Linked DNA regions of Homo sapiens: region 2 is linked to region 1. The links come from fine-mapping of genetic effects on gene expression. Tissue or cell type: lymphoblastoid cells. Region 1 holds a variant in brackets; the other region holds the start of a gene. All regions are shown on one strand. Distances are from middle to middle.

Region 1 (5,641 bases):
GTTCATGCCTGTAATCCCAGCACTTTGGGAGAACGAGGCAGGTGGATCACCTGAGGTCAGGAGTTCAAGATCAGCCTGGCCAACATAGTGAAACCCCGTCTCTACTAAAAATACAAAAATTCACCAGGCATGTTGGCGTGTGTCTGTAGTTCCAGCTACTCAGGAGGCTGAGGCAGGAGAATCACTTGAACCCAGGAGGCAGAGGTTGCAGTGAGCCGATATCCCGCCACTGCACTCCAGCCTGGGTGACAAGAGTGAAACTCCATCTAAAAAAAAAAAAATAAAATAAAACAAAACCCAAAGTATACAGGCAAAAAATAGCATGATGAATGGAATAGTACCTCACATCTTGATACTGATGTTGAATGTAAATTGCCTAAATGCTCCACTTAAAAGATATAGAATTGCACAATGGATAAGAATTCACCAATCATCTGTTGCCTTCAAGACACTCAACTAACATATAAGGACTTACATAAATGTCAGGTAAAGGGGTGAAAAAAGACATTCCATGCAAATGGACAAAAGCGAGTAGGAGTAGCTATTCTTATACCAAACAAAACAAACTTTAAAGCAACAGCAGTTAAAAAACAGACAAACAGGGACATTATATAATGATAGAAAGCCTTGTCCAACAGGAAAATATCACAATCCTAAATATATATGTACCTAACCCTGGTGTTCCCAAATTTATGAAACAACTACTACTAGACCTAAGTAATGAGATAGACAGCAACACAATAATAGTGGGGGACTTCAATACTCCACTGACAGCACTAGACAGGTCATCAAGACAGAAAATCAACAAAGAAACAATGGATTTAAACTATACCCCGGAACAAATAAACTTAACAGATATTTACAACACATTCTACCCAACAACTGTAGAATATACATTCTATTCATCAGCATATGGAACTATCTCCAAGATAGACCATATGATAGGCCACAAAACAAGTCTCAAAAAATTTAAGAAAATTGAAATTATATCAATTACTCTCTCAGACCACAGTGGAATAAAACTGAAAATCAACTCCAAAAGGTACCTTCAAAGCCATGCAAATACATGGAAATTAAATAACCTGCTCCTGAATGATCATTGGGTCAACAATAAAATCAAGATGGAAGTTCAAAAATTCTTTGAACCGAGAGATAATAGTGACATAACCTATCAAAACCTCTGGGATACAGTAAAGGTGGTGCTAAGAGGAAAATTCACCACCTTAAATGCTTACACCAAAAAGTCTGAAAGAACACAACTAGACAATCTAAGGTCACACCTCAAGGAACTAGAGAAACAAGAACAAACCTGACCCAAACCCAGCAGAAGAAAGGAAATAACCAAGATCAGAGCAGAGCTAAATGAAACTGAAACAATCAAACAAAAATACAAAAGATAAATGAAACAAAAAGCTGGTTCCTTGAAAAGATAAATAAAATTGATAGACCACTAGCAAGATGAACCAAGAGAAGAGAGAAGATTCAAATAAGCTGAATTAGAAATGAAGCGGGAGATATTACAACTGACACCACAGAAATACAAAAGATCATTCAAGGCTACTATCAAAACTTTTACGCACATAAACTAGAAAACCTAGAGGAGATGGGTAAATTCCTAAAAAGACACAACTCCTAGTTTAAATCAGGAAGAATTCGAAACCCTAGACAGACCAATAACAAGCAGTGAGAACGAAATACTGCCTTCAAAAAAAAAAATACCGGCTGGGCACGATGGCTCACGCCTGTAATCCTAGCACTTTGGGAGGCCAAGGTGGGTGGATCACGAGGTCAGGAGATCGAGACCATCCTGGCTAACACGGTGAAACCCCGTGTCTACTAAAAATACAAAAAAATTAGCTGGGCGTGGCAGCGGGTGCCTATAGTCCCAGCTACTTGGGAGGCTGAGGCAGGAGAATGGTGTGAACCCTGAAGGTGGAGCTTGCAGTGAGCTGAGATTGGGCCACTGCACTCCAGCCTTGGCGACAGAGAGAGACTCCATCTCAAAAAGACAAAAAAAAAAAAATCCAGGACTAGACAGATTGACAGCTGAATTCTACCAGACATTCAAAGAATTGGTGTCAATCCTATTGACACTATTCCAAAAGACAGAGAAAGAGGGAATCCTCCCTAAATCATTCTATAAAGAAAGTATCACCCTAATACCAAAACTAGGAAAAGATATAACAAAAAAAGAAAACTACAGACAAATATCCCTGATGAACATAGATGCAAAAATCCTTAACAAAATATGAGCTAAATGAATTCAACAGCATATCAAAAAGATAATCCACCATGATCAAGTGGGTCTTATACCAGGTATGCAGGGATAGTTTAACATACAAAAGTCAATAAATGTGATACACCATATAAACAGAATTAAAAATAAAAATCACATGATCATCTCGATAAACTCAGAAAAAGCATTTAACAAAATCCAGGCCAGGCATGGTGGCTCACACCTGTAATCCCAACACTTTGGGAGGCTGAGGTGGGTGGATCACCTGAGGTCAGTAGTTCAAGACTAGCCTGGCCAACATGGTGAATGAAACCCTGTCTCTACTAAAAATACAAAAAATAGCCAGGCATGGTGGTGCATGCCTGTAATCCCAGCTACTCAGGAGACTGAGGCAGGAGAATCGCCTGAACCTGGGAGGCGGAGATTTCAGTGAGCCAAGATCATGCCACCGCACTCTAGCCTGGACAACAGAGTGAGACTCCATAT[G/GA]AAAAAAAAAAAAAAATCCAGCATCCTTTTGTCATTAGAACCCTCAGCAGAATCAGCATACAAGGGACATACCTCAAAGTAATAAAAGCCATCTATGATAAATCCACAGCCAACATAATACTGGAAAAGTATTATGAAAGCATTCCCTTTGAGAACTGGAACAAGATAAGGATGCCTACTCTCACCACTTCTATTGAGAACTAGAACAAGATGAGGATGCCTACTCTCACCACTTCTATTCAACAGTAATACTGGAAGTTCTAGTCAGAGCAATCAGACAAGAGAAAGAAATAAAGGGCACCCAAATCAGTAAAGAGGAAGTCGAACTACTGCTGTTCACTGGCAATATGACTGTATACCTAGAAAACTCCTTAGAGTTTTCTAAAAAGCTCCCAGAACTGATAAATGAATTTAGCAAAGTTTCAGGATACAAAATTAATGTACATAAATCAGTATCTCTGCTATACACCAACAGTGACCAAGCTGAGAATCTAATCAATAACTCAATCCCTTTTACTGTAAAAATAAAATAAAGTACTTAAGAATATACCTAACCAAGGAGGTGAAAGACCTCTTCAGCAAATGAGTTTCTTGTAGATTCTGGATATTAGTCCTTTGTCGGATGTATAGATTGTGATGATTTTTTCCCACTCTGTGGGTTGTTTGCTGACTGTTCCTTTTGCTGTGCAAATGGTGCTGGGATAATTGGCACGCCACATGTAGAAGAATGAAACTTGATCCTCATCTCTGACCTTATGCAAAAATCAACTCAAGGCCAGACACAGTGGTTCATGCCTGTAATCCCAGCACTCTGGGAGGCGGGTAGATCATCTGAGGTCAGGAGTTCAAGACCAGCCTGGCGAACATTGTGAAACCCTGTCTCTACTAAAAATACATAAATTAGCTGGTCATGGTGGCAGGCACCTGTAATCCCACCTACTCGGAAGGCTGAGGCAGGAGAATCACTTCTACCCAGTAGGGGGAGGTTGCAGTGAGCCAAGAGTATGCCATCGCACTCCAGTCTGGGTGACAGATTGAGACTCCATCTCAAAAAAAAAAAAAATCAACTCAAGATGGATCAAGGACTTAAATGACTTAAATCTAAGACCTAAACCATAAAAATTCTAGAATATAGTATCAGAAAAACCCTTCTAGACATTGGATTAGGCAAAGATTTCATGACCAAGAACTCAAAAGCAAATGAAACACAAAGATAAATAGGTGGGACTTAATTAAACTAAAGAGCTTTTGCACAGCAAAAGGAACAGTCAGCAAACAACCCACAGAGTGGGAAAAAATCATCACAATCTATACATCCGACAAAGGACTAATATCCAGAATCTACAAGAAACTCAAACAAATTAGCAAGAAAAAACAAATAATCCCATCAAAAAGTGAGCTAAGGATATGAATAGAGAATTCTGAAAAGAAGATATACAAATGGCCAACAAACACATGAAAACATGCTCAACAACACCAATGGTCAGGGAAATGCAGATCAAAACCACAATGTGATACCACCTCACTCCCACAAGAATGCCCATTATCAAAAAATCAAAAAACAGTAGATGTTGGTGTGGATGTGGTGAAAAGGGAAAACTTCTACACTGCTGGTGGGAATGTAAACTAGTACAACCACTATGGAAAACAGTGTGGAGATTCATTAAAGAACTAAAAGTAGAACTACCATTTGATCCAACAATCCCACTACTGGGTATCTACCCAGAGGAAAAGAAGTCATTACACAAATGTACAATTCATATAATGTATAACATTATACAAAAGCACAATTCACAATTGCAAAAATGTGGAAGCAGCTGAAATGCCCATCAATCAACAAGTGGATAAAGAAACTGTGGTATACATACACGATGGAATACTACTCAGCCATAAAAATGAATGAATCAATGGCATTCGCAGCAATCTGGACAGGATTGTAGACTATTATTCTAAGTGAAGTAACTCAGGAATGGAAAACTGAACATATGTTCTCACTTATAAGTGGGAGCTAAGCTATGACAATGCAAAGGCATGAGAAAGATACAACGGGCCGGGCACGGTGGCTCACGCCTGTAATCCCAACACTTTCGGAGGCTAAGGTGGGTGGATCATGAGGTCAGGAGATCAAGACCATCCTGGCCAATATGGTGAAACCCCATCTCTACTAAAAATACAAAAATTAGCTGGGCATGGTGGTGGGAGCCTGTAGTCCCAGCTACTCAGGAGGCTGATGCAGGAGAATTGCTTGAACCCGGGAGGCAGAGGTTGTGGTGAGCTTAGATTGTGCCACTGCACTCCAGCCTGGGTGACAGAGTGAGACTCTGTCTCAAAAAAAAAAAAAAAAAAAAAAAAGAATTATCAAGGAACCTGCCCCCGACAGTCACGTAAGTTCTTTTCTATTTTCCCTAAGCATCGTCCGGGTTGAGAAATAAAGGGACAGAGTACAAAAGAGAGAAATTTTAAAGCTGGGCGTCCGGGGGAGACATCACGTCGGTAGGTTCCGTGATGCCTCCTGAGCTGTAAAACCAGCAAGTTTTTATTAGGGATTTTCAAAAGGGGAGGCAGTGTACAAATAGGGTGTGGGTCACAGAGATCACGTACTTCACAAGGTAATAGAATATCACAAGGCAAATGGAGGCAGGGCGAGATCACAGGACCACAGACCGGGGCGAAATTAAAATTGCTAATGAAGTTTCGGGCATCATTGTCATTGATAACATCTTTTCAGAAGACAGGGTTTGAGAGCAACCGGTCTGACCAAAATTTATTTGGCGGGAATTTCCTCGTCCTAATAAGCCTGGGAGTGCTATGGGAGACTGGGGCTTATTTCATCCCTACAGTCTCGACCATAGAAGACAGCCACACCCAAGGGGGCCATTTTAGAGGCCTACCCTCAGGGGCGCATTCTCTTTCTCAGGG
Region 2 (5,641 bases), 55 kb after region 1:
TCCCAGCTACTCAGGAGGCTGAGGCAGAAGAATTGCTTGAACCTGGGAGGCGGAGGTTGCAGTGAGCCAAGATCATGCCAGTGCACTCCAGCTTGGGCGACAGAGTGAGACTCTGTCTCAAACAACAACAACAACGATAAAAATACTCAAAAAAGAAGAAGAAGAAAGGAAGAGGAAGAAGAAGAAGAAAGAAGCAAGAAGGAGGAAGGAGGAGGAGCAGGAGAAAGGCTAGGTTCAGTTGCTCATGCCTGTAATCCCAGCACTTTGGAAGGCCAAGGTTGGAGAATTGCTTGAGCCCAGGAATTTGAGACCAGCCTGGGCAACATAGTGGGACCCTGTGTCTATAAAAAAATTTTAAAATATTAGCCGGGTGTGGTGGCATGTAGCCATAGTCCCAGCTCCTTTAGAGGCTGAGGTAGCAGGATCGCTTGAGCCCAGGACATGGATCATGGCTGCAGTGAGCTGTGATCATGCCACTGCACTCCAGCCTGGAATAAAACCCTGTCTCAAAAAAAAAAAAAAAAAAAAACAACAAAAATACAACAACTTAGACTGGGTAATTTATAAACAGTAGAATTGTATTGCTCACAGTTCTGGAGGCTGGGATATCCAAGATCAAGGCTCCAGCAGAGTCACAGTCTGCTAAGGGCTTGTTCTCTGCTTCAAACATGGTGCCTTCTCAGAGCATCCACACATGGCAGAAGGATCAAACAGGCTCCCTCAAGCCTCTTTCACAAGGGCACCAATTTCCCCCACAAAGGATCCATCCTGTTAATATGAATGTGTTGGGTCTTAGGTTTCAACATATGAATTTTGGGGAGATACCAGCATCCAAACCATAGCAGCCCCCAAATATGCTGGGCCCTCAAAACCCTCCAAAATCCCTTCACTTATCTCTATTCTATGACTGGGCCTACTCTCCACAGGGACCATTCACTGCTCCTCACATGGCCCACTCAACAACTTTTCTCGCTCTCTGTAGGCAACACTGTCTCCTCCTTAAATTGAAAATCAAGGCCACCTAAGACACTACCCAGGCCTGCTCTTCATTCATTCATTCATTTAATAAATATTTACCAGAGCTAACATGGGCCTGCACGGTACAGATGTGAGACATACAAGAATGAGAGCCAAGCGGCCATGGTCTCTGCCTTCATGGATCTCAGTCTACTGTTAAGTTACACATTAAGCAAAAATTACACAAATTATTGCACACCCTGAAAGGGGCTAGGAAGAAGAATCCCTGGTGCTGCAATTTTTGTGTTTTTTTTGTTTTTGTTTTTGAGACGAAGTATCACTCTGTGGCTCAGGCTGCAGTACAGTGAGGCGATCTCAGTTCGCTGCAACTGCCACCTCCCAAGGTCAAGTGATTCTCCTGCCTCAGCCTCCTGAGTAGCTGGGATTACAGACGCATGCCACCACGCCCGGCTAATTTTTGTATTTTTAGTAGAGCTAGGGTTTCACCACGTTGGCCAGGCTGGTCTCAAACTTCTGACCTCAGGCAATCCGCACCTGGCCTCCCAGAGTGCTGGGATTACAGGTGTAAGCCACTGTGCCCGGCTGTTTTTTTTTTTTTTTTTTTTTGAGACAGAGTCTTGCTCTTCGCCCAGGCTGGAGTGCAGTGGCTCAATCTCAGCTCACTCCAACCTCCACCTCCCAGGTTGAAGCGATTCTCCTGCCTCAGCCTCCCAAGTAGTTGGGACTACAGGCATGCACCACCACGCCCCTCTAAGTTTTATATTTTCAGTAGTGACGGGGTTTTGCCATGCCTGCCTCAGCATCCCAAAGTGCTGGGATTACAGGCGTGAGCCACTGAGCCCGGCTGTTTCTTTTTGTGTGTGTTTTTTTTAATGAAACAGGGTCTCGCTCTGTTGCCCAGGCTGGAGTGTAGTGGTGCAATCACAGCTCTCTGCAGCCTCTACCTCCCTTCAGGGCCCAAGCAATTCTCCCACCTCAGCGTCCCAAGTAGCTAGGATTACAGGCCTGAGCCGCTAATTATTTTCTTTTCTTCTTTCTCATTCTCTCTCTCTCTTTTTTTTTTTTTTTACCATGTTGCCCAGGCTGGTCTTGAACTCCTGGACTCAAGAGATCCGCCACTCTGCCTCCCAAAATGCCGTGATTACAGGTATGAGCCACCACACCCAGCAATGCTGCAAGTCTTATGGGCCAGGATAGTGTAATCTAAGAAATGATATATGAAGAACTCTCACAATAGGGAAGAGGTGAGGAGTGTCCAGGCAGAGAGAAGAGCATTTGCAGAGGCCCTGGGCGAGAAGAAACCTGCATCCTTTAAGGACCTAAATGAAGCCAAGCAGGCAGAGGCTAGATCACACATGGGGGCTTCATGCCCACCTTAAGTAGTTTGGGTCTTTAAAAAAGGAATGAGACTCATAAAGAGGTTTTAAGGAGCGAATGCTATTGCTGCCATGAACAGATATTCCTTCCCCATAGCTGCAGAGCAGGCACAGGGCTGTTTTTGCCCGCCAGTATGTCCCCACCGTCTAGCCCAGAGCGGGGCCAGCGGCCGGCTCCTACCCACACTTGCTGGCAGGAAGACTGGACGCACTGCGGGACATGGTGATGTCCTGGGTTGGGGCTGAGGAAGGCCTATGCGCGGAGGGTGCGGCCTTCGGCTAAGGCAGAGGACCAGGGTTGGGTCCGTGGCGGCGGGAGGGGTGGCCTCCTGCGCTGGTCGCCCCAGGGGACCTGAGAGGCGCGACAAACAGTCGGCGCGTTTGGTACTCGCGCCTGCAGAGCTTTCAACCTCCGCGCCGGCTGCGCCTGTTTCTCGGCCAGGGGAGCAAGGCCACGCGGCCTACGCAGCCGAGTCGGAACCAACCGGTTGTTTGGTGAAACCTACCCCAGAGCCTCCCGCGGCCCACAGAGCACAGGTGAGGCAGCAGACCGGGTGGGGTCGGTGTCGCGCCTGCGCCCGCCCGGACGCCTCGGGCCCGCCCGCTCCGCACCCTGGAAACCCCTGCACTCAGCCCCCCGGCGTCCCCACGCTCTCGGCCCTGCTGCGCCGGCGGCGGCCATCTCTGGGCGGCGGCGGCGGGCGGTGTTTGCGCGGTCGGTGAGACCCGCGCGGGTGAGACGCTGGGTGAGTTCCGGACGCTTCCAGCCGGCCCGCCGGTGATCCCAGACCTCGGGGCGGGACGCGGCTCCCGCTCACCGCCGGCAAAGGTGGAGGTGCGGCGGGGCGCGGGGCGCGGGGCCAGCCCGGGGCGGTGCGGGGGCGTCCCTGCCTAGCGAGGCCCTGCCCCGCGACCTGCCGCACCCTCCTCCGGCCTGTTCGCGACCTCTAAAGATAATACTTCTCACTGTCGAAAACGTGGAACAGAAAGCAAGGAAGCAAGCAAAGCAGCCGTGCCGCTGCTCCCCAGAGACAAGCTGCGTTAACATGAGGGTGTATATTCTTCCAGATGGTTTTTCCTTGTAACATGAGCGGGGCTTGTTTTTGCAGAACCTGCATCATAAAGTGCTGAAACTCTCTCTCTCTCTCTCTCTCTCTCTCTCTCTCTCTCTCTCTCGACTCTCTCTCTCTCGACTCTCTCTCTCTCTCTCTCGACTCTCTCTCTCTCTCTCTCTCTCTCTCGACTGTACATTCCTGTGTGTCAGGTTGACTACCTCATCCATCCCTGACTCTTGGCATGGCTTTGGACTGTGATTTACTAAATGTAGTTTCTCCCTGATGGTGAGCGTACAAGTGGTTTTCAGTTTTTAGTTATTGCAAAAAGTAATTCATTGAGCATCGTTGTATCTGGGTTTTTGAGCGTGATCATTTCTGTAGAAAGAATCGCACAAGATTCGTTCTAAAACAAGATAGAATCCACGGTCTATACCACAAGGCTTCTGGTATAGATTGTGAAATGGCCCTCAGAAAAGTTATTCTCCTTTTTGTACCTCCAGTAAGTAGCATTTGGGAATACTTGGCTCGAGGAGCTTCCTGAGTGATTTTACTGGAGACCCCCCTCACTTCATAAGGGGCCGGCCCGGAGATGAAGATGTCAACACTTGAGTGTGACTTGCATTATTGGCTGGCCCTACCTGGGGGCCTTTGCTGAAAAGGGAACCATGAGCATCTTAGTAACTACTATCATCTAGTAATTTTTAAACTGACTTCGGTTTATCTTGAACGAACCATTTCAGTCCCCAGTAAGAATAAACCTAAGTTAAGGCAAAATTCAGGTGGATTAGATGAACAGTGGCAACGTGTTGGTGTTTAAGTCATGCTCTGAAACTTAGGTGTTGGGTTGCTAGGGAAGGGATTTTAAAAGATTGATGGGTACGTATGAGATACGCAAAAAGCTTTCTTTAAAGACATGTAAAAAGTTTCAAGTGCTTGGTATCATCTCCATCAGTGAAAGTAAGTGGAATATGGTTTTTCATCTTTTTAAATTTACATTTTAATAAAATATTTGCAAAAATAGAGGGTTTTTTGTATTTATCATTTTCCAGTTTGGTCATAGAATCTTGAAAATTAAGTACATGCATAAGAGTTTAAAAACAACAGTGGATTAATTTCTTGCTCCCAAGTTTCATTTTTTTATTTTTCAGACAGAATCTCCCTCTGTCACCCAGGCTGGAGTGCAGTGGCATGATCTCGGCTCACTGCAACCTCCACCTCCCGGGTTCAAGCGATTCTTGTGCCTCAGCCTCCGGAGTAGCTGGGATTTACAGACGTGCGCTACCATGCCCGGCAAATTTTTCTATTTTTGCAAAGACAGGATTTCACCGTTTTGTCCAGGCTGGTCTTGAACTATTGACCTCAAGTGATCCGACCGCCTTGACCTCCCAAAGTGCTGGGATTACGGGGTGTGAGCCATCGCGCCTGGCCACTTTCTCCAAAGTTTTAAACCAAAGCCTTCTTCGGCAGAGCTACGACCCTTCCTCTATGGCCCATTCTATCCTATGCTGCTTCCCTTTATAAGGACACTCCCACTGTTGTGCTATAATCATCTCTTGGTATCTCCGGACTCTGCCACTCTGAGGTTAGTGCCCTGCCCAGAGCCTGGTACATAAGTACCCAATAACTATTGGTATGCTGGATGAACTTAGAATATGACATGTGTTTATTAAATTGAATTTGTAACTTAGAGATCTATGTGACAGATATTTCTGAGTGAAGTGGAAATTGGGGACAAGGACAGATGTTATCATCTTTTGGTTACAGGTGCAGTTGCATCCCAAGAAACACTACAGCCAGGACACCTGCATTTTTTTTTCTTTTTTTGTTTTTTTTTTTAACAACGTTACTGAAATATAACTCACATACCATAAAATTCACCCATTTAAAGTATACAATTCTTTCTAATATAATTAACTTTTTGAAGTGGTAAAATATATACAACATAGATTTGCCATTTTAACAATTTTTTAGTGTACAATTCAGGGGCATTAAGTACATTCACAATAGTGTGCGATCATTGTCACTATCTATTTGCCAAACTTTTCAATACCTTAAACAGAAACACAGTAACCATTAAGCAATAACTCTGTGCTATGGTTTGGATATTTGTACTTACCAAATCTCATGTTGAAATTTGATCCCCAGTGTGGCAGTATTGGGAAGTGGGGCCTAATGGGAGGTGTTTGGGTCATGGGGGCTGATCCCCAGTGAATACATTAATGCCCTCCCTTG

Evidence for each region. PIP is the estimated chance that this variant, and not a neighbour inherited with it, causes the effect.
Region 2: it holds the start of FAIM, and the variant in region 1 is fine-mapped to the expression of FAIM in lymphoblastoid cells (TwinsUK, PIP 0.95).

Annotation. Positions count from the first base shown.
Region 1 is chr3:138,551,478-138,557,118 of GRCh38, forward strand. All of the region lies in intron 6 of CEP70 (centrosomal protein 70), which reads right to left. Among named protein-coding and RNA genes, the nearest start is that of CEP70, 40 kb to the right of the region's middle. The variant G/GA (reference allele first, on the strand shown) is at 2,723.
Region 2 is chr3:138,606,047-138,611,687 of GRCh38, forward strand. FAIM (Fas apoptotic inhibitory molecule) reads left to right here and starts at 2,725. Exons shown (of 6, transcript NM_001033031.2): 1 at 2,725-2,891. RefSeq lists a silencer at 2,813-3,272 and an enhancer at 3,373-3,462.